Homo sapiens: one gene and its partners. The protein of the gene in region 3 interacts with the protein of the main gene of each other region in a biochemical or structural test. Each region holds a gene or a part of one and is shown on either strand. Other genes may lie near its edges.

Evidence for each region.
Region 1: the proteins of FCHSD2 (region 3) and MAGI1 form a complex in vitro, tested with the Homo sapiens proteins (2 studies listed by BioGRID and IntAct, with this or other methods).
Region 2: the proteins of FCHSD2 (region 3) and CASK form a complex in vitro, tested with the Homo sapiens proteins (2 studies listed by BioGRID and IntAct, with this or other methods).

The regions. Positions count from the first base shown.
Region 1 is NC_000003.12:66,027,793-66,038,424, forward strand, and holds part of MAGI1 (membrane-associated guanylate kinase, WW and PDZ domain-containing protein 1), read right to left. Parts: 5' UTR 10,517-10,632; coding exon 10,204-10,516; intron 1-10,203. UniProt on the Homo sapiens protein: Plays a role in coupling actin fibers to cell junctions in endothelial cells, via its interaction with AMOTL2 and CDH5. May regulate acid-induced ASIC3 currents by modulating its expression at the cell surface.
Region 2 is NC_000023.11:41,918,502-41,929,075, forward strand, and holds the start of CASK (peripheral plasma membrane protein CASK), read right to left. Parts: upstream 5,054-10,574; 5' UTR 4,488-5,053; coding exon 4,429-4,487; intron 1-4,428. UniProt on the Homo sapiens protein: Multidomain scaffolding Mg(2+)-independent protein kinase that catalyzes the phosphotransfer from ATP to proteins such as NRXN1, and plays a role in synaptic transmembrane protein anchoring and ion channel trafficking.
Region 3 is NC_000011.10:72,885,697-72,896,328, forward strand, and holds part of FCHSD2 (F-BAR and double SH3 domains protein 2), read right to left. Parts: intron 4,250-10,632; coding exon 4,133-4,249; intron 1,879-4,132; coding exon 1,774-1,878; intron 1-1,773. UniProt on the Homo sapiens protein: Adapter protein that plays a role in endocytosis via clathrin-coated pits. Contributes to the internalization of cell surface receptors, such as integrin ITGB1 and transferrin receptor.

The DNA of each region.
Region 1 (10,632 bases), on a different chromosome or scaffold from region 3:
GATAATTCTCCCTTGAGGGGCTGTTGTGTACATTGTGGGGTGTTCAGCAGGGTCCCGGGCCTCTACTCTCTAGATGCCAGAAGCAACCCTCTCCTTAATTGTGACAACCAAAAATGGCTCCAGACGTTGCCAAATGTCCCCTGGGGAACAAACTTGCCCCCAGCTGAGAACCACTGATTCAGAGGCACTAACTGACGTACCTCCATTTCTCAGCTGAAAATATCACAGCTGGCCAGGCACGAAGGCTCATGCCTGTAATCCCAGCACTTTGGGAGGCCAAGGCAGGCAGATCGCTTGAGCCCAGGAGCTCGAGACCAGCCTGAGCAATGTAGTGAAACCCCATCTCTACAAACAAACAAATAGCCAGGTGTGGTGGGTGCATGCCTGCAGTCCCAGCCACTCAGGAGGCTGAGGTAGGAGGATCGCTTGAGCCCAGGAGGTGGGTGTTGCAGTGAGCTGAGATCAAGAAAAGAAAAGATCACAGCTGCTTGTAGGGTAGGTACTTCAATGAGCACCACTTAAGAGCCAGGCAGGGTAGTACAAGTTTTACATACATTATCTCATTTAATCCTTACAACCACTTTATGACACAGGTAACATTCTCATTTTCAACTGGGAGAACTGATGTTCTGGGAGGCTAACCTGTCCCTGGTCTCTCAGCTGGGAAGTGCGAGAGCCTGGATTTGAACCCAGGCGGTCTGACTCCAAACCCTTATGACCACTAAGCCCCACTGCTTCCCCAGCCATTCCTGATGTAGGAGCCCAGACGTGGTACCAGGAAGATGAGAGGACCACAGAGTCCCATTCTCAAGAATCATCGTTGATGGTAAAAGCCTGCCTGAACACGCAAGAACTCGCCCTCCCTCCACACTACCACAACCTGCGACCTGCGAACAATCATTAAAAGCAATTCCTCACCGAGGACAATGTGGGAGAAACTCGGGCAACTCAAACCTCCGTGAGGTCCGGAGGCTTCCTTCCTACTTGTCTGAACTAATCCAGTCTCAGCCTTTCAAAAAGGCAGCATCTGAATCAAGCAGAAAAAAGAGTGTTTTTTTTCTAGACTTGAAAAGCTCTCCAGAGAACTGTACACTGCAATCTCCATCTCTCAAGAGATTCTTTCTTCTCTCCCAAGGGCTTTCAAATGGGGAGCATTCAAACAATTACAGAAGCCAACATTTATTGAGCACTCACTATGTGCCAAGCCCTGTGTCATGTGGTTTACTTTCTACTTTTCCAACAACCCTAGAGAGTAGGTATCATTATTATCCCCATTTTCCGAGGGGGAAACCTGGCACAAAGAGGTTCAGCATCTTGCCCCAGAACACCCAGCTCATAAAGTGTAAAGCCTGCCTCTTCACCCAAGCCAACCTTGGGTCCAAAATCTGACTCTATGACACATCAGTAAATTGCTATTTGTGGATCATTTTATGAGCAGTACTACGGTCCTGATGACACTATATATAGCAGTAATTTTGAAACATGGCTTATAATCAGGGCACGATCGCCTTTTAATTGCACCATCATGCCCCTGTCCATAAAGAGAGCCTCGAGTCTTGTCTCATAAAGGAGTAAAGATTATCCTTATTGTAAGAAGCATAACTGTGGCCCATTAAACAGACACACAAATGCCTCCATCCACAGTAATGGTGGGGTTGATACCTTAGCCATGAGAATGTAATTATCTTATGGAACTCATCTTCATGACACTGGAGATGGTAACAGAAAAAGTCTATACACACAGCCAGAAGAACCTCTCAGTCTGTTTAGGGGTGAGAGAGTCTGCAAAGTTCCATGACACACTCAGCATGGGGCTGCCTTAGACACACAGTGGTGACTTGCTCTTTAAAGCATCTCCATTGGCCTTCTTGACTCACTGGTCTCACCTCTTCCTTGCCCTACTGGAACTTCCTGGGAGCACCTCCCAGATAAGCCCTGTGCATTCAAATCCTGACCTAGAGTTGCCTTCTAGGGATTCATGTTGGTGGGGAGCACACAGGACTGAAAGTGGACTGAGGCCAATGACTTGGCTAAGTAAGGGATGCTGTGCACAGACCTATCCCTAACTCGACAAGATCTTCATGGTGACTCTAGTAGCCTCAGCTCTCCTGTTTGGATCAGCCACCTGGTACCCCTTGTTACCGTCATTTCCCAAATCAAAGTAACCTCTGAAAATCAGGACACTCAATTAATTTTAAAGTCAAGGACCTCTTCCATGCAGGGAAACCTAAAATTGGAAATGTGACCTTATCTCTGACTCCAAGGAGACTCCAGTGGACTCTTCCCTCCCCTTCTTGACAAGAAACCAAGGACCCACATGTTCTTACTTGTAAACCCATAATACTAAGACCAACTGAAGCAGGCCAGCAATGTTCACTGACTTTAAGAATATTCCTGGATCAATCGGCTAAGCTCTATTTTAGCCCCAGCCATTGACTGTAAATGTTAAACTCTAACCAACTTTAATGTGATCCATCATCAGTCACCTAAATTTTCAGGGACTTCTATATATCTACATTTTCAGAGGTAACTGACCTCAGAAGAGATTTATTCTAGTTCTAAACTTGACTGTAAACATTTAACAAATACCCAAGCAAGTACTAGGCACCATGCACTGTTTTTGCTACTGGGGATACTGTGGGAGAACAAGACAACATTCCTGCCATCTCAGAGCTTACATTCTAGAGAAAGAGGTAAAATAAGAAATTTACTTGTGGTGAAGCGATCTACATACTATGGAGTAAAATAAAGCTGAGAGGGGGAACAGGGAATGACACGTGGCAGTGGAGTTATGGTTTTCAATAATGTGCTCACAAGAGGCCTCACTGGGCAGGTGACATTTCAGAAAGACTTGAAGCTCAAGAGATAGCAAGCCTGTAAGATGATCAGGTGGGCACTAGCAGGCAGGACAGAGAAAGAGAAGTAATATCCTTAGGACAGGTCACGGGCAGCCTTGGAAGTCACTATAAGGACTTCGGCTTTCACTCAGATACAGAGACTACAGAAATGATTAATAATGGATTATTCCATTATGTAATTACTGAGCCATAAAAAGAGAAGATTTCTATTTAATCATAAAAGACACTGCTCAAATTACATTTTCTAATTTTGCTACATGCCTTCGGAAAAGTTGACATCCAGAACACATTAGACCCTCCACAGGACACTTAACTAGAAAGCAGAGTCAATATGATAGGACCAACCTTGACATCTGTTGAAACAACAAAATGAATTCATAAGAAATACTACATCGATGCCGACCTCCATAGGGGAGAAGTCTAGCAATGCACCAGTGTGTACTAGGGATTTTTCAAGGTTACAGATCTCACATATGAGCTGCAAAAAGACAGGCAGGCATGCAGTAACCTACTTTTTTAGGATGTGAATGTCAGCCCTTAACGAATTTGACAGCCTTTATTCTCAGTGTATACAAAATCAGTATATCCTGTTACTTGTATATACAAACTCAAGGAAAGGGCCACTAACACCAGAGAGTGGTGCTTTGCATTAAATAACCCTCGTTTACAAAGCAACATCCTTCATGTAAACCCTTGTGGTAAGGAGATGTCAGAATGTTTTCTCTTATAAACCACTTAATTCCCCTTGGTGGATATCATCAATTCTGCCATCTAAAACCAGCTGGGTAATGAATGCCAAGAAACACGGTGAGCCAACTGTATGCCATTGCCACAGAAGGTCAAGTTAATCTATTTTTAAATAACACAGCCAATGACAAGGGGTGGCCACTGGAAACGATGGACAAGTGCGTTGTACGTCCTTGCTTCATTTTTTGTAAAACCTGTACAGTGTTCCACAGTGTAACCTAAAAATATCCTTCCAAGAGTGGTCTTTTGGCACCAAGAACAAAAACAGGTTGATTTTTGAAAGTTTAAGTTAAAAAAAAAAAGACATAAATACAAAGTACAATTTAAGAGCGAGAGGGCTAAAATTGGATTGTGTTCTGTAGCAAAGATCTGATTTGCTATTAGCCAAAAAAAAAAGTACACAGGGACAATGCTGCAAGAAAACGGAGGGAAAGAATCATTTTTAGGCATGAGGACACAGGTCCCACATCAACAAAAAAAATCCTCATCATCCTGCCTGCTGAACATCTGAAATTTCACGTTTAGAGGCTCACTTGTTAAACTTCAGTTAGAGTCAACAGGCAGAAATACTTGAATAGGATTCATTAATCCTTGTCAGTCATTTATAGCCCAGTATAAATTATTAGACACAGAAAGCCTGCTAATTGGAAGATCTGATTACGAGAAAGTGAAGACCTCTGGATCCTAAACAAGAAGTAAAAGACAAATCGAGAGAAAGGGAGGAAAGATGTTGCAAGTGGCCTAGTTGCACTTACCTTCCGAAACAATGGAATAGTCATTCAGGCATCCAACCAATTTTAGTGAGCACCTATTATTTGCTGGGTCTTTTTTTTGAGATGAGTCTCACTCTGTCACCCAGGCTGGAGTGCAGTGGCGCGATCTCAGCTCACTGCAACCTCAGCCTCCCGGGTTCAAGCAATTCTCTGCCTCAGCCTCCCTAGTGGCTGGGATTACAGGCGCCCACCACCACGCCCGGCTAATTTTTTTGTTTTTTTTTTTTTTTTAGTAGAGACAGGGTTTCACCATCTTGGCCAGGCTGGTCTTGAACTCCTGACCTTGTGATCCACCCACCTCGGCCTCCCAAAGTGCTGGGATTACAGGCATGAGCCACCACGCCTGGCCCTGCTGGGTCTTTTTTAGACACTGAGAAATACAGCAGTGAACAAGAGAGACAAGCTTCTTGTTTTCATGGAACTTCTATTCTCATGGGAGGGGAAACAGACAATAAAGAAGAAACAGGGCCCGTTGCGGTGGCTCACGCCTACAATCCTAGCACTTCGGGAGGCCAAGGCGGCAGGCAGATTGCCTGAGCTCAAGAGACCAGCCTGGGCAACATGGCGAAACCCCACCTGTACTAAAATACAAAAAATTAGCCAGGCATGGTGGTACATGCCTATAATGCCAGCTACTCGGGAGGCTAAGCATCAGAATTGCTTGAACCCGGGAGGCAAAGGTTGCAGTGAGCCGAGATCGCACCACTGCACTCCAGCCTGGGCAACAGAGCGAAACTCCATCTCAAAAAAAAAAAAAAAAAAAACAACAACAACAACAACAGAAGATAATACGAGATTGTGTCAAGGCTATGAAGGAACAAACAGGGTGAGGGAATGGCACTTTACTCAGGGAGCTATCTTTTGTGTGTGTGTGTGAGATGGGGGTCTCACTCTGTCACCCAGGCTGGAGTGCAGTGGTACAATCTTGGCTCACTGCAACCTCTGCCTCCTGGTCTCAAGCGATTCTCCCACTCTGCCTCCCGAGTAGCTGGGACTACAGAAGTTCGCCACCACGCCCAGCTAGTTTATGTATTTTTTGGTAGAGACTTCACCATGTTGCCCAGGCTGGTCTTAAACTCCTGAGCTCAAGTGATCCACCCACCTTGGCCTCCCAAGGTGCTGGGATTACAGGTGAGCCACCACAAGGGCACTATCTTATATGCAGTCAGTGGTGTGTGGGGGCCAGCTCACATTGGCTTGGGAACAGCAAGTATACGCGTCTCTTCCCAACTCCAGCTATGCTATAAATCAGGGTCTACCCACTACTAGCACTGGTTGTTAAGCATTTTACAGCACACCAGAAGGAGGTCACTGAGGAGAAAGAAGCAAGACCAGAGATTCATGAGAAACCAAACAACTCTGAAAGACAAGGCCCTGTGTTTTAAAATGAGAGTTATTGTCATACATTCCAATGAATCAAAACAATACCAAAACAAAAAACCACACAAAGAACTATATTCAACCATATGTGATCACAATTTCCCTCATTACAGTGAGGGGAAGGGTCTGGTGGTGGTTTGGTTTGGCTTTTAAATTGTATCTCTTTTATTATCTCCACACTGCCACACATACACAAAAAGTAGAGGGATAGTTACAGTTCCTGGGTAATTTGAAAAACCACAAAATTCACCTGCAAAAATATGTAAGCATGACCTGTAATACACCACTTTGGGAAACTACAATCATACCATTTTAAACCTTTGGAGTCTGGGTGATTCATGGAAACAAAGGATTTCACGAGCACAAATAACCTGAAGAGGCTCACCCACTTATTTTTGGCATAGAGAAATGTAGGCTCCAAGAATGTGACTGGCAGAGCTTATTCTAGAACCCAGGTCACCTGTCTCATCTGATGTCATCTTCTCAATTTTGGTCTATACCCTAGTACAGTAGTTCTTAAAACTGAACCCTTGAATCCCTTAATAAGCCCATCAGAATCCCTTGAGGGTTTATTAAAACACCCCATGGTTGTTACCCCACCCCCCAACCCCAACCCCATCCCCCGCAAAGCTTCTGAATTGGTAGAACTAAGGTGGGGCCCAGGAATCTGGATTTCTAACCAGTTCCCAGGTTACTATACTAATGCCACTGGTCTGAGGACCTCACTTGGAGACCTACTGTCCCAGGAATTGGGAGCACAGGCTTTGGAATCAGACAGAGCTGGGTTGCAGCTCTACTGCCACTGTGGTATGACCCTTGGAAAAGTTACCCAAATTCTCTGAACCTCAGCTTCTAACATCTGAGTCCAATTGTAAGGACTGAAAAAGAGAATGCCCACGAAGCATCAGCTTAGCCAAGCACCTATTATATTCTAAGGCAAGATCTTAATACATACTAGCGACATCTTATATCCTGTATCAAAGTTTCCTTAATTACATTTTTCCGAAGCATATACTAGGACGGCTAAAATTCAAAAGACAAACAAAATCAAAGATGGCCAAAGATGTAGAGCAACTGAAACATTAATAACAGCTTTATTCGTAATAGTAAAAAATGGTAAATACTCCAAATGTCCATAAACAAGCAAAAGGACAAACTGGTATGTGTATACAATGGAATATTACTTAGCAATAAAAAAAGAACCAAATGAAGTACACATGCAACAAAACGAAATCTCCAAAATATTTTGTTGAGTAACAAAAGCCAAACACAAAAGAGTACATACTGCATTAGTTCATTTTTATGAAGTTGAAGACAAAATTATTCTATGGTAGATCTATGGTGCAGGGGGAGGGGGGAATTAACTGGACAGGAACATGAGAAAAATTTCTGGGGTGATGAAAATGTTCTCTATCTTCATTTGAGTGATTAACATGAGTGCATACATCGCTTAAAACTCATCAAATTATATATCTAAGATATGCATTTTACTATAGGTAAATGATACCTGAATACACATAATTATATATAACTTTGTAAAGGCATTTTATGACAAAGTACTGTCTTCCCCACTTAAAATGAACCAACTCCAACCTGACAAAGGACTGTCTTCTCCATTTAAAATGAACCAAGTCCAACCTGGCAGATCCATTGAGTTTGATTCCTGCACAATCCAGTCCTGTCACAGACAGTTTTGGTCCATGTATCTTTCCAGAGAACTGCCATGAAGTAGAAAAACAGAATTTTCTCCCACCATGTAGACAGTATCCAGAGTGATCTGTGTCCCTGGAAGTGGCTAACTTGGGATGCAAACAACACAAAAGTAGTATTTTTCTTTACCATATACCAAGTATGAGCCTGCTTGATATGACTTTAAAAGGCACAGTAATGAAGACACATTAAGAGCAATTCTGTCATACAATCTAAATCATATTCTCAACATGGAAGAGGGAGCAGAAAACTGGTGAAATGGTTTCTAGGGCCATCATTACTGGTAATGAAGACGTCAGAAGATCCAACTGTGCCTGTGTAATTATTACATGAAATAGTCACTTTCAGACTGCAATGAATTCCAGGCCATTCAGGTTTCCCAATCAGTATCATATTTCTATCCCATTACAAGTAGATTCACGTACATCCATCCATACATACATATACACACACACACAGAAACATACCCACACACTCGCCCCTGCTGTGAACAATCTGTGCACAAGGGGTGAAGAGAGCTAACACCTGGAGACACTACAGTTTCCTTTCAACTCAGAGGTGTCTGTTTCCAAACCCACTTGATTATCTCACCAAGCCTTCCTAAACTCCATGATGAGAGAGCCCTGGGACATCGCCTCCCAGAAATTTGGCAACTAGTGGAAGGAAGAGACACAAGCCCATGCAGCATCTTGCACACTGCAAACACTGCAAGCCAGCCCCTATTCAGGACCCGTTAGACACTGCGAGGCATCCCCCTAGTTGGGCAGGTACCCTTGCCTGTCCTTCCTCCACCCTTTCTCCAAAATGGTCCTGAACTGAGACCTGCAGCTGCTCCCATCCTATGCCTTCACACAGTATTTTCTCTACAGCCCTATCAAGTCATAATTATCCAGGTTCCTGACACTAAAAACTAGTTTCAGAAATAAATAGCTGCTAAAATCAATTCAAACATAAATAGCTAATCTTTATGGAGCACTTACTATGTACAGGCACTGTTGGGTGCACTTTCCACGTGTTAGCTTATGTAATACCCACAGGAAAGCCAGTGTGAGGAAGACGCATTGTCAGGCCAGGAAAGGTTTTGAACCTCAAGCAAAACCTGGAGAGGTATGCCAGGAATGAGGCACAATCTCTCCCTTTAATGAGCTCACTACCTTGTATGGAAATGAGGACCTAACTCAGAGTTCAGAGTAAGTAAAAAAGCCACAAAGTAGACATTAAAGGAGCCCAAAGGAGGAAGAATTTGTGCATCCTAGCAGGATTCTGGAGGGCTTCTTGGAGGAGGTATCCCAGTGGAGAATGAAGTCATAAATACAAGGAGCTTTCCATAGCTAAGTGTCAGCTCCTCAGCTCCCAAAGCTGCTAAAAGGCCAGGCGAGTCGGCCGCCCCCTCCTCCATTTCATCTGGAGCACGCCTGTTTCCAAGAGAGGACCAGCTAGGCCCAGCCCTTCCTTTGACACATTCCTCCAGCTGCTGCCTGTCCTTATGGAAACACATGGGAACTTTTCACCATGTTCAACTTCACGACTTCCTTCGGTGCTTTCACTGGGGAGAACCTGCGTCATGGCACTTGCTTGCACAAGGGAGCCCTTTAAGGGCCTCAGCTGGTCTCCATTGGGTTGACATGAGGACAGCCCCTTGTCTGTACCAAAGTGAGATGTAAGGGACCTACATCACCAGCAGCCAGCAAATGCATCTTTTAAAAGGCCTCTACAGATTTCTGAGAGAGGAATTTGCTTCCACTCCCTCCTCAGGAATCAGCCCCTTCAGTGCGGTAGGGTCATCCCCCCACTCCTTCCTCCTCCATACTTAAGGCTCTGCAGCAAGGGCTCAAACCCTCGCTTTTGGCAACTGTGTGACCTTGAGCAAGTCACTTAACCAGTATCAATCCCAGTTTCCTTATCTCTAATTTGGGGTATATAAATAAGAACAACTCGTTCTTAGAACTGTTGTGAATCGGAGTGAGATAGTGCAAGTAAAGTATTTTACACAGAGCCGGGCATGTAGTAAACCAACAATGAATAGTAGCTTCATTTTCATCATCAATAATGACGATGATGGTGGTGGTGGGAGGGTAAACTTGGACCCGATTCGAGCTAAAAGCAAGCACCCCTTCCCCCTCTCCCCCTCCCAAGTGTATGGCTGAGCCACACGGTGGAGACACATGCGTCATCCGGCTGAGGGGTGAATGCAGGCTCTTCTGGCGGCGGGCTCAGGAACCGCCAGGCAGTGGTGTCCTAGCTCACCTGGAGGGGTCGCGGGGTGAAGCAGATTTTCTGATGGGGGAGGTCCAATAAACTACAGACCCTCTCTTTCTGTATACCCACTCAGCAGGTATGGAAACTGACTCGTGGCCAAAGAACGCCAGCTGCATCCCTCCCCCAAGGAGCCAGGACAGCGTCCACCATGCCCCTGACTCAGTTCCCCAACTCTCTCTCGGGTGCAGGCGAGACTGCGCTGCACTTAGTGGCGGAGATAACAGGTTGGCCAGCCAGGCCTGAGAAACGTCCCCCCGCTACCTTGCGCAAACCCAGCCCCCTCTTCGAAACGCAGGTGGGCAAACAACCCTCAACCTCGCAACAACTTTGTGTATTTCACCGCCACCACAGGGCGCACGGCCTCAACTTCTCTTCACTGCGCTCCGAGGAGGGAAGCAGGAAATCGAGAATAAGGGGCAGCCCACAGACCACCCTCCTTTTCTCGGGGCGCCCCCCAAAGGCGCGCCCTGCCTTACCTTGTCTGACGGCCTTGAAGGTGACGGCCTCCTTGCAGCTGTCGATGACCCCCAGCACGTCATAGCGGGGCAAGCCGGACACCCGGACCCCCTGCACCTCCAGAAGCAGCTCCCCTTCGCCCAGCCTCGGGCCCTCGCCGCCGCCGGGAAGCCCCGCTGCCTCGACCGCCGCCACCGCTCCGACGTACGGAAACTCCCCGTGCTCCGCGCCTCCCAGCACCGTCACCCCCAGCTCGCCCTGGGGTCCCCGCTTCACGGTGCATTCGTGAACCCTGCTAGTCCAGTGGTTCTTCTTCTGGATCACTTTGGACATGATGAGTTACACCCCTCCTCCAAAAAAATAAAACGAGAGACAGGTGCCCCCCACAGCACGAGCCCCCAAGCCTCCGCTTGTTCATGGGAGAAACATCTCTCCCCAAATCACAAAAC
Region 2 (10,574 bases), on a different chromosome or scaffold from region 3:
AAACCATCATCAACTGTTATTGAAGCAATCCTTGTTCTGTGTTGTTCCAAACGTCAGACAATCGCCATGTTAGCATTAGATGAGTGTCATAAATCAATGTGGATCTTAAAAGGCCCAAGAAATCAAAGCCAAACACAAGCTAAAACTAAATTTTTACACAATAAGGCTGAGAAACACAAGTGCATAGAAGATAAAATCCATGTTTTAGCCATTTAGCTTCAATACCTTCCAAAAAGAATTTATTCTACTTTGTAAGAATTGTAAGCCTCTGAAAAGCCAGTCCCAAAATATTACATACATAATCTAAGTTTTAAGCCAATGATTCCTCATTATAGCTGCATATTAGAATCACACAGAGAGCTTTAAAAAAATGTCAGTGACCAGGACCCAGTCCCAGAAACTCGGACTTCACTGCTTTGACACAGGGCTCTGGCGTTGATCTTTTTTAAAAGCTCCCCGGATGATTCTAATATGCAGCCAGGTGGAGAACCACTACTTTAAACTAATGCAGGCTCTTCGGACAATAATTGCTCTGAGGTTGACAAACATGCTTTTTTGCCTTTTAATGAGATTTTATTAAAACTACTCAATTCATTCCACAGCTAATGAAAGGCAGTTACATTGCACGCACTGTGTTAATGGAGAAAGATGTGTAAGAAACATTCCCTGCCCTCAGGAAGCTCCTTATTAGTGAACTAGAGAGATCCATAAATAAGTAACTGTAATTAAATAAAAGTGCTCTCGAGGAGTAAGCAAATACAGCATGCCTCACAAAGTTGCACGTCATCCTTAAGCAAGGGTCATGCTGCATCATTCCAATTTTAGTGTATGTCCTACCAGAGCAGGAAAGTCTGAAGCTACAGGCTACTAAACAGGGCAAGTATTCACCTAACACAAGGTAAAAATGGTATGTATTTTGTTATTCCCTTTCATACACACTGCTGTACCAAGAAAGTAGGCATTTTTCTATGTTTTAATTTCGATGAATTGTCTTAAATTTCCTTCATGTAGTATTACCGGTTGTACACTTACTTATAATTGTAAAAGATACAGTAAATGATCATGACATAAAAATTAGTCATTAACCTCATTTGCATAACGCCCTTCCTTTCCAGTAATCGCTACATTTGCTAAGACAAGAAGTTTTGGGACTATGATAAGGTCTTATTATTGGAGATTTGTTTCAGTCATTTAAAAGATAGTTACATAGAAAATGTTATAGAACCAACAGTCACTCAAAGGAGTTTCTGCAAGATTTTCAAAAATGAGAAACACAGGGAAAAGAGTTTTAATTTTTAAAAAGGGAAACGGCATCCTTCCAATATTTGTAACAAATTGGGCACATGTTCCCTCAAAGACAGCTTTAACAAGGGTAAAGGCTGCAACCACTGGAAAGAAAACATATTCCAAATAATGATCTTATATTTCAAAACCTCATTAACTCTGTAAGTTATCTTTCTCAACCAAGGGGGAAAAAAACACACTGAAGGGTCTAAATTAAACGAGAACTTTCATTTATGCCATCAAGTAAGGCCAAGTACACAGTGGGTGAGTGAGTAGGTGGTTGCGTAGGTAGAGGAGTGAGTGGGTAGTCAATTAGTCTTGAAAAGTGAAATCTATTTTAAAGTACCTTAGTAAAAATTAAAACCTATTAAGATCTAGTGGTGAAAAACAACTTGTGATACTAATTTGGTAAAAAAGAAAATCAAAATTCCATAGAACTTGGATAGAAATCAATAAAAAGGTTTTCAGTACATGTGAATATCTTCAAGGGCTTTCTGTTCAAATTCAGAGGTGAACAAATTATAAGTTAAAAATGTATGCTGTCAAGGTCCCTGCAAGAAAATCTCAAGCTAATTTCAATTTCCAGATCAATATATACTAAGACAATTTACTAGAGAAACCTTCAACCTTTACTCAGATTGAGGAACACTATTATTACATTCTTTAACAATAAGGCTAGCTTGAATTCATTATTTCACATAATGGCATTTTATAATTGGCACTGACCAAGTCAGATTTTGTAGGATATGAATGAGATTTCACAGTTCATAGTAGTTAAGGTAGCCATAGAGTACCTATCACCTCAAAATTAGCTTGCTGCCCCTCTTTATGCAGCTCTGAAACAGTCAGAAAAGATGAATTTTTTTCTCCCAGGGGTGTTTCCTGAAAAATATTCTATCAATTACAAATCAGCAGAATATGGACTGTGTTAATGTGATTCTGACCATTTCTTTTTGATATCCAAAGAGATCACATCATCACCCTTCCAGACTTTAAGGAATCAGAACTAGTTACCAAAACTGATTCAGAGATGGCTATTTTACATCTTCACAATATAATTAACATTTTAATCTCACATTTTCCAATTATGACTTTGTTAGTTCATTTACATCAGCTATAACTAAGATGCAACAAACATCATTCACCCACACATACAGTCATTTGGAGGCTTTTGGGAAACACCTAATTTATCTTCACTGGGTGCTCCTAAGAATGAGGAAACCAAGGAGATTTTTGATGCATTTTTCTCTCTAGAACTGTGCTATTCACATGTGGCTACTGGGCACCTGAAACGTGGCTGGTCCGACTGGGAAACTGAATTTTGAATTGTATTTAATTTTAATTAATTAAAATTTAAATTTAGAAAAAGGTACTTGATTCGGTTATTGGAAAACTTTTATGTATATTGGGAACAACTTGGGTATGTGAATATACTTTTGCAAACGCAAATTTTATGAAACCTAAATACAGATTAAGTATTTCTGATTTTCATCAGAAATGTAGCTTAGTGTCAGAATTGAGATGTGCTATTAGTGTAAAATACACATTGGGATTTCAAAGACTTAGCATAAAAGATGTAAAATATTTCATTAATATTTTTTCATATTGATTACATGTTGAAATGTTAAGTTTGGATCTACAGGGTTAAATAAAATATTTTATTAAAATTAATTGCACCTGTATGTTTTTATTAAATGTGGCTACTAGAAAATTTTAAATTACAAATGTGGCTCATAATATATCTTTTGGACAGTGCTGTTCTAGAACACTTCCACAAGCACTTTAACAGGACACATTTGGATACTTTCCTTTTAAGTCTGGCTGGTCATGTAACAATAGGGCAAGGAGTAACATGTCCTCACATCAATTGGGTCTGAGTAAAGTGTGTAGCAAGCTCTACCCACAATTTCACCATGTGAGGCAACACTGTAATACCTCAATATGGAAAGAAAAGGAAACAAATTAGCACTCAAATTGAAATTGAGTACTGCAGACAACTTAAAAGAGATAGGGCCAACTGCTTTAAGGTCTTGGTTTCATTTCCCAACTGTGGACCTTAAAATAGACAATAAAGCACCGCTTCCAAAAAAAAAAAAAAAAAAAAAAAGAGGTAAGATATTTCAATGTTAGCTCTAGCGATCCTTATTAAGCAAAAATTTGCTCTTAAATCTTATCTCCTCAACTTCTAAAGCCGCAGAATACACGCTGTGTTAGGAAATCAACTTCAGATTGCCAGCATTTCCTTCACAAGCAAATTAGCAGGATTGTGCACTTGGAGTACTGTTTGACAAGAATGAAAAGGAAACTATTCAAAATAGATTTAAGGAATGGACAATTAGATGAGGAACTGCAGATTTAATTCTCAATCAGCACTGTGATTAATCTGATTCCCTGCTTTTCCCCAGCGTAATTATACAACACAGATGAAAGGATGAGCATTTGGACTGTCAGTTCTATATTCTAGACCAGCCCGGTGACTCAAAGCAGACGGCTCTACCACGCTAACCACCATCCCAACAACAGTCGAGGGGAGTCTCGAGCACTGATTGAACAGTCATTGCATAACAAGGCATTAAAAATTCGAATGCCCCCAACTCTTTCCACGTTCGTGTACACCAGGAGGGAATTTGCTGAAACTGAAAGCACCCCGTCTTAAATGACCCCCTCCAATCCGAGCATGGGGTGTACACAAAGGCATCTGTCTAATATCCCGCACAATAGACACACACCCCACAATTAAAACCCTGGACTCTCTCACCACACAAGCAAAGGAAATGCAAGCTGCTCTGTTTCAAAAATGGTCTATGGTACATGCAAGGTAACAATAACCCCAACTGAAGCAACTATAAAATCGGCTGTGCCACGTCCCTGTGCAACCGTCAGATAAAATGCAGGCAGCCGGCCCCACGCCTTACGGGGTGGCCAACCTCGGCTCGGTGGCCTCAATGGACCGCTGAGAACCCCCAGGCCCCCGCCTGGCAGGAGCTCCAGGTACACGTCTATAAATACTCCAGGATGAGAAGGACGAGAGGGGAAGAGGGGAAGGAGGGAGGGCAGGGGGCAGGCCCCGAGCGGGTGCGGGAAGACCGGGGCATCACTGAAATGCATTTTTCCACACTCCCGCTCCCTCGCGTGGAGACTCACTTTCCGATCACCTCGCACAGCTCGTACACATCCTCGAACAGCACGTCGTCGTCGGCCATGGTCCGGAGGGGATAGCGGCCGCAGCGTGGAGGGCTTCGAAAACGGGGGTGGGGGCGCCCAAGAGCTCAGTGCCCAGCCCCGGGATCGCCTCCTCCCCTCAGGACCCGCGAGCCCTCGGTGCCGAGGACGCTCGAGTGGGGCCGCGAGGCCCAGAGACTGCGGCGCCTTCCTCTGCAGGCGACCGCCCCGGCGCGGGCGGCGGGGCCGGGGCGCGGGAGCGAGGGCGGCCCGGGCCCGGCGCCGCCCGCCCGCCCGCTGCTTCTCGCGCTGCTCGGGCCGCGCTGCCCGGCGTGCGGATCCTCGGGGACCGCGCGGCGTCGCGCTCTCCGCTCGTCAGCCCGCGCGGGCCGCGAGGCCGCGACCGCTCCCTCTGTCCGAGGCCGGCTCCGTCGCGTCGCGGAGCAGCTCGGGCTACAGAGGGGGCCGCGGCAGGACCATGGAGCGAGGATCGCCGCGGAGGGAGGTGGCGGCGGCGGCGGATCGGCGCTGGGGACCAGGAGGCGGCGGCAGAGACGCTCCCTCCTCTTTCTCCTCCTCCCGCAGCCGCCACCGCCCGCCCGGGAGTGGGAGGGGGCTTCGCGGGACCGGCGCTCTGTGCGGGCGGGAGCCGCGGCCGCCGCCTTCTGCTCCGCCCCTACGCCTCAGCAGCCGACCGGCTCGCCAGCCCCGCTCACCCGCCTCGCGCAGACACGCCCTCCTCCCCCGTCGGCGGCGCGGCTTCCAGAACCACAGGCTCCGCCCACTCCAACCGGTCGGGAGGCGGTGGCCCAGGGAAAGGGGAGCGGGCCGAGCGGCGCATGCGCGGGGCGCCGGCCGCGTCACGGCGAACGGGCGGGCACCGGGATTCTAGAGGGCGCGGGGGGTTGAGTGGGGCGCGCCGGCTGCAGCTGCCGAGGCGGGGCTGGTTGGGGTCGTCGCCTCCGCGCCTAGCCGCGACCAAGCCGCGAAAGGGGCTGGAGACAAAAGGTCCACGGCTGCACGCTCGTTGTCCGGCAAGAGGCACGAAACTCTGGCCGCTCCCCTTTCCTTCTTTTGTAATCGCAGGGAGCCTTTCCCAGTTTTTTGCTGGGAAAAGAGGCAGGGAAAGGGTGCTAATGAATGAGAAAGCTAAAAGAGAGGTGGAGAGAGGTTGTCACTGAATCCGTGCTTGGCAGCGGATGCTTTTAGTGCTACCCTGTCATTCCTTAATGAAGATGAGGGCTGGGGGTAAGGGGAGGTCGTCCAAGAAAAGGACTAAACAAAAACTGCCTAGGAAGGTGTGCGACAGCAAACGGTCATCTATAGAGACAGCTTCTCCCACGTTCTGCCCCAAACTCAACAAATATCTATCCAGCGCCTACCCTCACTAGAGACCAACCTAGAGAGAAGCTAGGAAGGCAGGGACAAACCGTGACTTTAAGCTCATTTGTATATTGTCCTCAAACTCCCAGGACCTACTCTGCTCTCTATACTCCCTATAAATGTTAGACTTGTCAGGAACAGAATGCAACTAGAGGGAGTGCAGGCACAGGAGCAGCCAGGGAGTGAGGTTCTGGGTGTTGCCGCTGTGCTAGGTTGCATTCAATATGAAGATTTCTGTTCAACTGAGCATGTGCGGAATGAGCCAGCGCCATCAGACAGGTATATGCCTCAGTTGAAGACCAATAGTGTCTTTGTTCCTCCGCACAGCAAAAGTGCCCAATTAGTTCATAAGTCAGTTTCCAGAAATCGTCTGGTAAATTTCTCAGTGCAGTATTTTTTTTAAAAAAAGTATTTATTAATACCAAAGTGGAGGGGGTGATGTGGAGACTCACAGCCTATTTTCTCTTCAGAAACGTTTCGTGCAAACCCTTGACCACTCCCTCAAAAGGCTGAGAGATTTGCCTGCTAAGGATTTGGGTACTAAACCTTTTTTTTTTTTTTAAATGCAGATCAGAGGACAAGTGTAATTGCACACGGTTTTCCTCCTTTCTCAAAGAGCTTGTGCATTCTCTAGAGACGGGGGCTTCAGAACTTGAGAAACATTGCCTCCTTTAAGGGTCCAAGAGTTACTCACCACAAGTTGGCATGTCCAGCTCATGTCTAATGAATAAGGCGTCACTCCATTCTGCCCTGAAGTGCACAGGGACCCTCTCAAGTCACCTTGTCAGCTTCACTTCTTTTCCCCAGCCCAAGACTGAGCTATACCAAGCCTTGTCGACTTCATTTTGGGGTTTGTTGTCTTCTACAGGGACCTATGCTCAGAGGTAGAAAAGGACAATCATAAAGTAAAACAGAAAAGAAAGTGCAGGTGAAAAAAAGAGAGACAGACGATTGCAAAAATAAGTAAGTGCTCTGCTCATAGGATCACAGTTGGTTTGGATCTGGAAAGAGACTCCCTCACTTACAGATGGAAGAATGTGGTGGTTGCTCTCCCAAAAGCCATCCCACCCCTCTCCCCCACCATGGGGTAGCAGCTCTGGACTTGAGGTGAGATTGTAACCATCTTTACTGGAGAGGTGGGCTCTGATTAATTAAACTAACACATGCAGCCCCCTTGCCACAGCGATAAGCCTAATTTAATCAGCTCTTGGCACTCCCTGGTCACAAGCTTTGAGTGGTTTGAGGTCTGCCAATCAGCACAAAGCTGAGGACTTTTTCTCCTGATCTGTACTTAGATCTCCCAGTTCCCAGTGTAATATTTAGTCATATAGAAATTCTCTGCAATACACATCCCTCAGAAGTTGTACCATGTATGATGGTTAGAAGTAGATCCTCTCTGCTTCGGGGACTAAAATAAGCAAACCTTTTAAATTAATTTTTCTCTGGGTGTCTTCCAAAAATCCAATACTGTTCCAACAAATAAGCCCATGTATTAGTGAGTCAGGTGTCAATAATTTGGTTCTGTTTTCGTTTCCACAAAGAAAATGTTAAAGTAAGTGCATCTATTAGATTGTGTTCAGATGTTAGCAACTGAATATTCAACTAACAGTGGTTTAAACAAATGCAAGGGGGCGGGGTGCTCTTTTCCATGTAGCAAGGAGATGTGTGGTTATTAACATTGATCAGCTATTCAAGTGCGTCATCAGTGACCTAGGTTTATTCGTTCCACTCTGCCATTCTTGTAATGTTAGCATCTCATCCTCAGGCTTGTTGCCTCATCATTATGAGATGGCTGCTGCAATTTCAGACATTAAAGGGAGGAAGCAGGAGGGCAGTAAGGACAGGAGAGGCCTTTCTGCTCCGTCTCTCATCTATTAGGGAAAGAAAATATCTTTTTCTCATCTCACGGGCCAGGACAGAGTCACAGGCAGCAACACTTACCTGCAAGGGAAGCTGGGGACACGGATATTTGTCTTCTCCTGCCTCCTCTTGGGAGGTAGACAAGGGAGAAGTAGGGGGAAAATGGGCTTTGGTAGCAGGCTGGAGTGCAGTGGCACGATCTTGGCTCACTGTAACCTCCACCTCCTGGGTTCAAGCGATTCTTCCACCTCAGCCTCCCAAGTAGCTGGGATTACAGGCACCTGACACCATGCCCAGCTAATTTTTGTATTTTTAGTATAGGCGGGGTTTCACCATGTTGGCCAGGCTGGTCTTGAACTCCTGACCTCAAGTGATCCGCCCTTCTCGGCCTCCCAAACTGCTGGGATTACAGGCTTGAGCCACTGTACCCGGCCGATTTCTAATGCTAGGAAAATTACCAATAAAACAGTTCTACGTCTTCATCATAATGTAGCTATACCTCTAGTATATAATTGATAGGCCTTAAAAAATTCAGAAACATCTAAAACCCCACAAGGATGGAGTTGGTGCTAAACAAATTTGATTCTCAGATGTCAGTGCAAATTTTCAGTGACTTCGAGGTCTTGGACTTTCCTCACAACTGCACTAGACATTCTCAGGTTGTCGGGCTCCCACATCATTTCAGCATGACACAGACATACAAGGGAAAAACACACTCCAGAGAAATATTAGCATGAGGGCCACACACAGAGGTCAGTGTGGCACGGGGCTAATTTAGGCAATTTAGAGTTCAGCCTCACTCCATAGTATGATTGTTTAAGGATATAAATTATTACTGAATTAATGAATAAAATTAAGAATGACACTGTTCTCAACTGGAATAGTTATTGCCTCACGGTATAAACAGGATGTTCTAAGCTAAAATGAAAGACACCCTTCCTCTCTCCAGAAAAAGCTACATATATTAGACTTATACTCTGATATCATTTTGCAAGTTATTTATTTTATATTTATTCAATGAATGTCTGTGTTAGCCATGGGGGCTATAGCTGCAAATGGTTCCCGCCCTCTCTGAACTTCATTCTAAAAGAAAACAAGTTGTCGGCAAGTAATTACATTGAAGAGTGATGTTTGTTAGGATTTAGGAAGTATGGGGAACACATATTGAGAGGACTTATGGGTTGGGGAAGGCCCAGTTGAAAAAATGTTTAGAACAAGACTATAGAAATTATAGAAATTAATCAGGTGAAGGGAGTAGGGGCCAGTTGATTATCGGTAGAGAAAACAACATTTCTGAAGTCTTGGAGGTGAGCAAGCATATGCTCTTTTAGAAGAAGAATATGCTGTTTTGGAGAAGTAGGTCACGGCTAGATCATAGCCTATAGGAAGAAAGAGGCCAGAGGGAGTTAGAGAAATAGGCAGGGGCCAGACACTGAAAGGCATCAATTACCATTTTAAAGAGTTCACTCACTGAAAGATTACAGATTTCAGTGGTACTAGAGTCTTATGTGTAGACTGAGTTACCCTGAAACCCCAAGCATGAACAGAATTCTACTTTTAAGTAATTATTCCCTTTGCACTGGGTGCATGTTGTTCTCTCCCTTGCTTTTAAAAATCCAGATACTCCTGTAGTAAATATGAAATCCTTTAAATGGTTTCAGCAGACACTGTAGGTGCTCCATTCAAATTCCCTCGGATCCCCTTTCCCATTTCTGTGTGCCTCACTCCAGCTTCAGTGTATTTTTGCTTCCAAAGTTCATACCTGTGACTCCAAAGGACTTCCCACAAGCTACTGGAATCATTTTGCCCACGCGGAAGTGCCTGGGAGTTTAGGTTGATTAGCTGTTAGCCAATGACCCATAGTGCAAGAATATGAAAGCCTTGACTGGGGAAGAGGGGACAACTCTGAGGGGTTACTTACAGTCCAGAGGTCCTCTGTGGGATCAGGCTGAAGGTACCCTTCCCAGGACTTTGCCTGAAATCCGACCCTTGTTTGGTTCCCTTTCCTACTTCTCTCATTACCTACCAAGTTTCTCCTGGGCGCACTTCCTTACTAAATCACTTGCTCATGAATACCCTATCAGGATCAGCTTTTGAGGAATCCATCCTAAGACAATGGCGTTTCTCCAAGTGATAACTGCCTCAGAATCACCTGGAAGCTTATGAAAAGTGTTAAAAATGTTGATTCCTGGGCCCCACCCAAGACATACTGAACCTGAATCTCCTGGAACATGTTGCAGGGATCTGTATTTATTTTTATTTTTTGAGACGGAGTTTCGCTCTTGTTGCCCAGGCTGGAGTGCAATGGCGCAATCTCGGCTCACTGCTACCTCCACCTCCCGGGTTCAAGCAATTCTCCTGCCTCAGCCTCCTAAGGGATCTGTATTTTTATGAGCTCCACAAGTAAGTCTAGTACACCTAAAAATTAAGAACCACCGTCCTAACACTGGCTGTTGAATAAGCTCTCTGGAAAAAAGGATCCAGGGTTGACCTCATCAATAGGGTGGAGAAGGCATAAGAAATGCAAAAGAACACTCCAGGGAGCAGAAGAGGACCTGATTACAAATGTGTTTCCTTCCCAATTTCTTCTGGTGCCAGTCCCGCAAACCTGTGTCTAAAGATTCATTTTGTGTGGTATATATACATACATATGCATACACACACAATGGAATATTCTTCAGCCATAAAAAGAATGAAATCATGTCTTTTGCAGCAACATGGATGAAACTGGAAAGCATTGTCTTACATGAAACAACTCAGAAACAAAGTCAAATACTGCGTGTTCTCACTTATAAGTCAGAGCTAAATAATGTGTGCACATGGACATGGTGTATAGAATAATAGACATTAGAGACTCAGAAGGGTGGGAGGGGGTCAGGGATGAG
Region 3 (10,632 bases):
TCATCTAGAGTGCGGAGAAACAAACAACAGGAATAACTCTTCTACCACAGGCCAGTGTTTCTTAGAGTAGATGAGGGCTTGCCAACACTACTTGGCCAGCACCCTAAGATAGTGGTTTAGACATGACCCTGAATTCAAAGAGAAAAATGACTATTCATTGTACACCCTGCCCTCCTCACTATGGTGGCTGTCAATTAGACTGTGAACAGGAATGAAGTGGAGGTGGGGTTACTGGGGTTTCTCCAGCCCAGGCAGATGGCAAGCCTGTTCTGATTCAGATCACTTCCATGGGGCTGTACCAAAAACATGCTCATATTCTCTATGCTTGCCTACGCTGCCTCTCCCTTCACCCCACAACCAGTGAAGCACTTCCTCAAAACCTCTGGAGTTCTAAGGGGGTGTTAGAAAACCATTAGTTTAGTTTAAACCTAAACCAGTGCAGGGATTCCTTGTATTGGGTCCCTGAAAGATGCTTGCCCAGAATCTTCTTACATACTTATAGGGCTGCACTATGTCTCAGGAGTGCTTATTCTGTCTTTGGGAAGATCTGACTATTAGAAAGTATTTCCCAATACTAAACTCACATCTCCTTCTTTCCTACCTTCATCTTTTGGTTCAAATTCTACCTCCTGAAGTTGCATGGCATAAGTCTGTGCTATCCCCTTTTCTCTGACTAATCAAATACTATTCATCTGCCAGCATTCATCTTAAGTCTTCTTCTGTGTTACACCCGCAACAATCCCTCCCAGAGTGATTTCTGTGGCCTCTGGGTTCTTCAACTATACTTAATGCACCACTCCTCGGCAGTTATGCTTTACCATCTTAGTGATTTTTGGCATTCTTTATGCCTTTCTAACAAGAACCTAATCTTTTAATGGCTGGATGGTGTCAGTCTTTTATAAATGTCTACCTCCATACCCCTTCACCACATTGCTGCTGAGTAGATAAAAGTGTGTGCACAGGTCCTCCATAAACTGGCCCTAACCACAACAAGTTTACTTACTTTCTACCACATTTCCTCACAAAAATCCTCCACTCTAATCATATCCAGCTACCAAATTATACTCTGTGTCTTCCTCCTTTGCTAATACTTTCTTGTTTCCTATCCCAACCTCTCCCTATCTAGAGCAGGGAGTATTAGCCTCAGGCATAAGAACTCTAAACACTACACAAAATGTACATTTTTGTGTGTGGGAGAGAATGTTTCACAGCTTTCATACAACCCTCAAAGGTCCCATGACTCCACAAAAAATTAAAATCCACTATTATAAATTTTTTCCCATCTCTGCTTAGCCAAATCTTCCCTATTCTTAAAAGCCCAGCTCATGCCCCTGGATCCAGGGAACCTTCCATATGGGGGAGATTTCCTAAGCTCTGAAAATATATATATATATATGAATATATGTCTCCATAGATATTGATATATAAGGAGATATATATATATATCTAAATTGATATATATACATCATTTTTTCTACCATTAATCTCTGTGGTTTATTATGTACCTTTTAGAAACTTTAAAATTAGTATCTTCATTGTGACTTAAATCTTTTGTATTTAATGTTTCATGACTGTAAACTTTACAGCATCTTTTTGTTATATGTACTGCCTTCCACAGAGCAGGTACTCAACAAATACTACTGTGGACACGAATGAAGACGGTGAATCACCTTCATCTCAGTGTGTGTAGAAACTCAGTTTTAAAGATGTATATCACAGCTGTGACAGTGTCATTAGACCTGGGCAAAATGCCACAATTAGCTGCCACCTTACCTCTGCTTTACGAATATTTTCTCTAGCTTCATCTATTTTCTGTTCTAGCTCTGCTCGGCTTTGTTCTGATACAGCAGCTCCATGACACTCCAGATCATTTAGAACCTATTAAAGAAAATGGGACAATAATGATGACTGTTTTTTACTTTTCATCTTCCTTAAGTGATTAAAGTATTTACATAATTCAAAGGGCTTTAGTGACTAGTAGCCATAATTTTTTTTCATTTATTTATTTTTTGAACATTTTGAAATAATTATAGACTTACTAGTAACAAACTTACTACAGACAGTCCCTTCAGTGGGGAAGCCAGGACCAGCCACTATCTGATTGCCGCCACATGAGAGACCCCAAGGGAAACTGCTAAGCTGAGACCATCCAATACTCAGATTAGTGAGAGATAATGTAAAAACCCTCTTGTTCTATGGCATTAAGTTTGAGGTGGTTTGTTAAGCAACATTACATAAGTGGAACACTGAATTTGAGACACCTGTGAGATAGTGAAAAGAAGATGTCAAAACAGGCAAGAGATTATATGGATACACAGTAGTAGCAAGGCCCAATGTTGAAGATGTTAATTTATGATTTGGTGGTAAAGTAAAACCATGGAAGTGACTGAGAATGCCTATATGAGGGTAAAGAATAAGAAAACAAGATAGCCAAGTATAGGAATCTGAGAAACTGAATATTTCATTGTGGGATGGAGAAAGAGGAACCCATGAAAAAATCTAGGTATGGCCAGAAAGGCAGAAGGAAAGCCAGGACAATGTTGAATCGTGGATGACTAGAGAAGATAACATTTTAAGACATGGAATTGTTAATTGTGATGAAATTGTTGACAGATTAAGAAAAATGAGAAATCAAAGTGTCCACTTGGAAGCTAGCAACACAGACATCATTGGCGATTTTGGTAAGCTTAGACAGGGGAAGGAAAGGACAGGAAAGCTCAAATGTAATGGGCTAAAAAGTAAGTGGGAGGTGAGATTCTATAGATAATAAGCATAGGCAATTCTTTTAAGAAGCAGGATGTGAAGGCAAAGAATGAGACGGATATAGGTATCAATAAATGAAACAGAAAAAAAGTACTATACTCCAAATAATTTCTTTGTGCTTAGAGTTTAGTCTTCGAGATATATTTTCTTTCTTTCTTTCTTTCTTTTTTTTTTTTGGAGACAGGGTCTTTCTCTGTCACCCAGTCTGGAGTTCAGAGGCATGATCTTACCTCAATGTAACCTCCACCTCCCGGGCTCAAGCAATTCTCCCCAACCTTAGCCTCCCGAATAGGTGGGAAGATAGGTGTGCGCCCCCATGCCCGACTAATTTTTGAATTTTTTGTAGACACCGGGTTTTTTGCCATGTTGCTCAGGCTGGTCTCAAACTCCTGGTTCAAGCAATCCACTTGCCTCAGCCTCCCAAAGTTCTGGGATTACAGGCGTGAGCCACTGCGCCCAGCCAAACATATATTTTCATGAAATCTATAATTGTGTCTTTCTTTTTTCTTTTTATTGAGACAGAGTCTCGCTGTCGCCCAGGTTGGAGTGCAGTGGCGTGATCTCAGCTCACTGCAAGCTCCGCCTCCCAGGTTCATGCCATTCTCCTGCCTCAACCTCCCGAGTAGCTGGGACTACAGGTGCCCGCCACCACACTCGGCTAATTTTTTGTATTTTTAGTAGAGATGGGGTTTCACCGTAACACATGTTAGCCAGGATGGTCTCGATCTCCTGACCTTGTGATCCACCCACCTCGGCCTCCCAAAGTGCTGGGATTACAGGCGTGAGCCACCGCGCCCGGCTATAATTATGTCTTTTAAAAAATATGTCTTGAGGGATGAAAACTTATATTAATTCAACATATGTCTCTTCCCCTGCCCATAATACACTATCACAATTTTCTTTGTTAATTTTATGGTAAACAGGTAAATTAATGTATTGCTGATGGAGGGCTTAAGGAAATTCCAACATGAGTAGATAGCTGACAGCACACTGCTGAGTGTTGAGAAAGTACAGAAAAAACACATATAATGCTTGAGCAAAGGAGTTTGAGACCAGCCTGGGAAACATGGCAAGACCCTATCTCTACAAAAAATCTAAAAAAATTTAGCCAGGCATAGTGGCATGTGCCTGTGGTCCCAGCTACTTGGGAGGCTGAAGTGGGAGAACTGCTTCAGCCCAGGAGGTTGAAGCTGCAGTAAGCCATGTTCACACCACTGCCCTTCAACCTGGGTGACAGAGCAAGCCTCTTGTCTCAAATAAAACAAAACAACACATATAGGATATTTTTCACATTAATAAAACTCAGTTCCTTAAACTGTTTGACATTTGGCTTAAGGTGAATGTAACTAGGACTTTCTCTTACACTTACCCGTTGTTGGTGAACAATGTTTTTATGCTCACGTGCCACACGTGTGGCCCATTTTCGAGCTTCCTTATTTAGACTGTGCTCCTCTGTGGTCCCAGTTTCTGATTCTAACTGTCGGCTCTACAATACAAGAGAGAACAGAGATAAAAATATTGCTATCCTTATTGTAACCACTACTGCTTTGTAGATGGATCAGAAGGCCTTCACTTAATCAGCACTCAAAACATGAGGCACGCTCCACTACTGCTGGAAGCAATGTCTTAACGTCACAGAAAGTTACCAGAAGAGTAAGATCAGCATAAAACCATTAAAGACCATAAGCTTTTTGTCTTACACTGCTGAACACAAAAGCATCATCTATAATACTGCAGACTTATCTTTTTGGGTGTGATGGACTTATCTTTCCGAGTGGGAAGGAAGCTAGCTAAGGTAAGCAAAGAAGAAAATGTATTCATGCCAACCTACTATGGTGATAAAATCATTGCATAAATAAAAATGGAAACAACTTAATAGTTTAAATGTGAGTAAAGAATCATTAAAGAGAAGTAAGAACAAAACAATATAATAACAGCAACACAATCTTGCACCCCTCCCCCTGCCCCAAGGCAGACGGAACTCTTTAGAGGTCCACCATCAACTTGCCACCAAACCTCAAAAGCCAGCTTTTGCTCTTTCTCCAGGCTTCATATGAAAGATAAGGGTGCTAGATCAAATGATCACCAAGGGTTTCTTCTAGCTCTAAAATGCTATGATTCTGATTTACAAAGAACAAACCACAAAATCTAAATAAAAATAGTAATAGCTAACTTCTATTGTGCAAGGTACTATGGAAAGTGCTTCATATAACTTTTTTTTTTTTTAACAACCTGATGATGTGGGTCCCACATCATTTTATAGAAAAGAAAACAGAGGCTCAGAGAGGTTAATTTTTCCTGGATGTCCTAGATGTTAAATGTTACAACCTTAATTGACCGATTCCAGAATCAGAGCTATTAAACACAAAACTATTTTAATTCTCTCTAAATTCTTAAAGACCCAAGAAAAACAAACTTTATTGAGATAATTAGGAATTTTTTTTAAAATATAAATTACCCAAAGAGGCTTTTAATATAGAAAGCAGCAAAATTGTAGAATGAAAAGAATTTTAGAAATTCTGATCACGGCTCACTGCAGCCTCAACCTCCGGGCTCAAGTGACTCTCCCACTTCAGCCTCCTGAGTAGCTGGAACTACAGGTGTGTGTCACCATACTCAGCTCATTTTTTTTTTTCCTTCTAGAGATAAGGTCTCACTATGTTGCCCAGGCAACATAGGAGTTCAACATCTTGAACTCCTTGGCTCAAGTAATCCTCCCACCCTGGTCTTCCAAAGTGTTCAAATTAGAGGGATGAGCCAGTACACCTGGCCTAGTAATTCTTTTGCAAGGTCTCATAGCTCAAAATTGATAGAGTAAGTAGAAATTGATAAACTGGATTTTAAAAATTAATATTTTTGTTGGGGGAATTGTGATGAGGCAGGGTTTAAAAATTTTTGTTCTATACAGACATTTCAGCTAGATTATAACAATGACAAATAAATTGAAATAGAGCAAAATAATCAATATTCAAACTTAACCATCTTTACATTCATATTTTACATTCTAATTCATTTTTGGGGTTATCAGAAGTTTGGGAATGAACTTTACTATTATATTTTGCTTTGCAAATGAATCTGGGCATTCAAACTTACATCTGTTCTCAAAGTCAGGAATATTAAAGTGTTAAACTCTGGACACAGATACAAATGAAATATACAAAAGTCAGAGGAATGTGATCTGTAAAAGTAGAAAGATAAATTCTGAAGAGTCCAAGAATAGGTTTTTGAGTCAGATAGACTTAGTTTGAATCCATTGTATGCCATTTTATGGCACTACTAGCTTTATGATCTTGGGCATGTTAATTATCTGAGTCGTAGCTACATCTGAAAACTAGTGAAAATGTCACCTATCTCCATAGGGTTGGTAGGTTATAATGAGGTCATATTTTAAACATTCTGGTATAGGATCTACATAATATCTTAGGCATCCAGTAATGGTAACTGTTAATGTTAAAGACCCAATTGAAAATTACTTGAAACAAAAATTTTCTTATTACTGTTCATAAGAAAATCCAGATAATTCCTAGGTTCTTAATAGCCTAAACAATGAATCCAAAATGAAGATTGAAGATATATTGAAAGATTAAGGCAGATCTCAAAGAGAATGAATTTGTAGGGAGTAGCTAGATGAGAAAGGAGGCAACTGATAGAGACATTTAATTTTTGTTACTGAGCAGCATTTTAGGAATAGGTAAAGGGGTTTAAATTGTGTGCTGGCTGCAGATGGGCCATAACCCAATTTGCCTTACAGAATTTATACCTTCTTATTGAGTATTCACTGTGCTCAGGATAGAGCTTTTCCCTTATTTTTTATGTGTCTACTAAGACTTGGGAGTCCAATGATCAGGACAGGTAACTAATGCCACTGATTGGAAGATGTGGCTTTGAGATCCTTTGGGTAGGGAATGACACAAAACTAAAACTCAAATTAATTTATCCTTTTCATGAATTCTGAAATCAAGCCATGGAATACATGTGGAAGCTCCTGAGACACAGGTCTTGACAACTGAGAATTTCATACAAGGTGAATACAGCCCAGGCTATTAAACAATACACAGAGAAATGTTCCAATACCACCTTCACTATCAAAGATCAATATAAATCAGGATCTAGTATAGATAATTATGTTTTTGTGTTTTTGTTTGTTTTGTTTTTTGTTTTTTGAGACAGAGTCTCACTCTGTTGGCCAGGCTGGAGTGCAGTGGCATGATCTCAGCTCAGTGCAACCTCCACCTCCTGGGTTCAAGTGATCCTCCTGCCTCAGCCTCCCAGGTAGCTGGGACTACAGGCATGTGCCACCATGCCCAACTAATTTTTTGTATTTTTAGTAGAGACGGGGTTTCACCATGTTGGCCAGGATGGTCTCGATCTCTTGACCTCGTGATCCACCCGCCTCGGCCTCCCAAAGTGCTTGGATTACAGGTGTGAGCCACCGTGCGTGGCTGGTAATTTTTTTTTTAAGACAGTGATATTAGCAGTGGTCGATTCTAACAAAGAAACCGTAATGACTGCTTCTTTTTAAAATGCTGGCAAATTTATTTTTATTTTTAATTTTTTGAGACAGAGTTTCACTCTGTCACCCAGACTGGAGTGCAGTGGCATGATTTTAGCTCACTGCAACCTCTGCCTCTCGGGTTCAAGAGATTCTCATTCCTCAGCCTCCGGAGTAACTGGGATTACAGGGCATGTACCACCATGCCCAGTTAACTTTTTGTATTTTTAGTAGAGATGGGGGTTTTGCTATGTTGGCCAGGCTGGTCTCGAACTCCTGTCCTCAAGTGATCCACCTGTTCTTGGCCTCCCAAAGTGCTGGGATTACAAGCATGAGCCTCCACGCCTGGCCTAGATCATTCTTTTAACATTTTTCTTTTTGGAAGACAGGTTCTCACTCTATTGCCCAGGCTGGAGTGCGGTGGTGCAATCATGGCTCACTGCAGCCTTGACCTCCCAAGCTCAAGCAATCCTCCCACCTCAGCATCCCAAGTAGCTGAGACCACAGCATATGCCATCACACGCAGATAATTTTTTTGATTTTTAGTAGAGATGAGATCTCACTATGTTGCCTAGGCCATCTCAAACTCCTGGCCTCAAATGATCCTCCTGCCTTGACCTCCCAAAGTGCTGGGATTAGAGGCATGAGCCACTATGCCCAGCCCAATATTTTTCCTTTATCTTTTAAAAATGTATTTGATACAAAAATTAGCTAGGCGTGGTGGCGCCGGAGGTTGCAGTGAGCCAAGATCGTGGCACTGCACTCCAGCCTAGGCTACAGAGGGAGACTCTGTCTCCAAAAAAAAAAAAAACTCTAGTCCCTTTAGAATAAAATATTACAATAAAGTCTTTTCAACATTCATAAAGTTATTAAATAACTTTGAAGAACTAAATTAAGGAAATCAGCATTCCAATATTCTTGATATATTAGTCTTTAAGTCATCTTAACTATTTTGTCCTTAGATGCTCTCTCAAGATATGATTTTGTTTTATTTTAAGGTTAATACAAAGGCATAGAAGGCTCAGATATCTGAGCAGAGTGAGCAGCGATAGAAAAGCTGACTTCGCAGAAGAAAACAATCAGTTTTTTAACTCTGTAACTAAAATATAACCATTTCAAGGAGAGAAAAAGAGATGGTCATGTATGATGAATGAAAATCACTAACAGTAAAATACTAGCATTCCAAACCATTTCAAAAAAAGATAGTGTTGGGGTTGTTAGGCCAATGGCATAACATTCTAGTTAACCCTCATTCAGGGAATTTGTACTACTTACATTTTTCAGTTTACTGAGAGACAAGAAATATACTGGGGCTGGGCACAGTAGCTCACACTTACAATCCCAGTGTTCTGGTAGGCCAAGGCAGAAAAACTGCTTGAGGCCAGGAGTTTGAGACCAGCCTGGGCAACATAGCTAGACCCCAGCTCTTAAAAAAAATTAGCACATACCTGTAGTCCTATCTATGGGAGGCTGAGGCAGGAGGATTGTTTGAGCCCAAGAGATCAAGGCTGCCAGGAGCTATGATTGTGCCCTCCAGCCTGGGTGACAGAGCTTCTCAAAAAATATATATTAATATATTGAGTTAAATATTGGATCCATCTTATTCTTTATGAAGTATATTAATATATGGTTAATTATTTCAATAAAGTTATTAATTATTTATCCTCAAAAGGACTTCTTCAAGTAAAAAGCATCTGGATCTCTGTATTCCAACTACACGTTTGTACAGGTTCACAATCCCACAATTCTGAAATTCAAAATGCTCTGAAAAAGAATAAGTATTTTTTGGTAAGTTTGGAGCCAAAACTCACTTGAGCCAAAATGTGATTTGAACTAATAAGAGGTTATTTATAGTTTTTTCTTTCATATATACATATATGAATGAAAATATTCATATGTTTCACTGCAAAAATACTATGTTTGGTCACAGGTGCTTCCCCATACATTGCTCAGGGTTTTATGCAATGTATGGTATATGGGTCACTTTTCTAAAATCTGGAAAATTCTGAATTTTGACATGTATTTGGCCCAAGGCTTTTGGTAAGAGACTGTAGACTTTTAAGTCACATATTTCAAATATGCCACACACCTTGAAGAGGAGTGGAACAGTGCCTCTTAAGAGACATAATTTAACTTATTCTGACTATGCTAGGATAGCAGAACCTTCACTTGGAAAGAAGTGGGAACTCATCTAGATAATTGTTGAGTGTGCCTGGCCTCTCAGGAGAGCACACTGGAGAAGAACTGGTGTGGACTGAGCCTTGGGACAATTCTGGAAAACTCTGGACACCTGGGGAAAAGGAATATACCCATTAAGGCTGGGGTGAAGAAATGATGAGAACTCTGAAAGGAGCTATTCTTTTGTCTTGGATTAAGAGTACCAAAGGCAAACCTTAGCAAAAAATATGTCCCTGAGTAATGACATGAAAGTAAAACAAAAATGGCATAAAAACCTTGCGTCTAACACTTTTGAGAACATACCTAGAGGCATGGTTAGATGGAACAGCCTTATAAAGAGTATGCCTTTATTTTGGTAGCTCTCACAGAGATCTTGCTTTAAGAGCTATAATCACAAGCTAGATAGGGGAACTTTCAGGCTCCTATTGTCAGCACATAACTAATGCGTCTATGCAAAGATCTAGTTACTCTGGATGGTTAGACAAGGAACCAGATCAGGAGAAAGGTGACTAAACCAGTAGAGGGCCTATCACATAGATAGTGGACTTTTTACAAAAAGCCTTTTGTGAAACGCTGAAGAAATTAGGACAACCACTACGAACACTTAACTGTCAGTATTGCTAATTCTAAAACGCAACACTCATGTCTTTAGTCAAAGCCTCTCATTTTTGGATACTGTGCCAAGCATGTGTAAGAGGATGGTACCTATTTACTCAACAGGAGGACATCCCACAAATTCTATCACAGCCTTTTTCACATTTATGAGACAACGCTATATGCAATACAAAATTTCTACAAGCAGAAAGAGCCACCCATAACAAAGAGAATTTTCAGGTACATTTCCTGCACAGTATATTAACCCCATGTAGACTTTTATAGACAAGGGAAATTTTTGCCAAATATTTTTTTAATAGATGCATAAATCACTCCCCTTATGTAAAACTTTAATGTGTAAAAATCCTCAACTACAGCAAGTGGACATTTTACTTACTATAATTTTTAATCTATAGAAGGCAGAATTAAATATCAGAAATAGCATCTAGAATAACAGGGAAAGATCATACATCAGAAATTTAGTGTCAGCTTTTTGCTGTCATGATCTGTGAAGATCTTGTTATTTGCTGTTCAAAGAAGGTAAAGGGGAAAGTGTATTCTCATTCCGACTGGGAAACCTGAGGAAGTTTCCGTGTTTTTCCTGC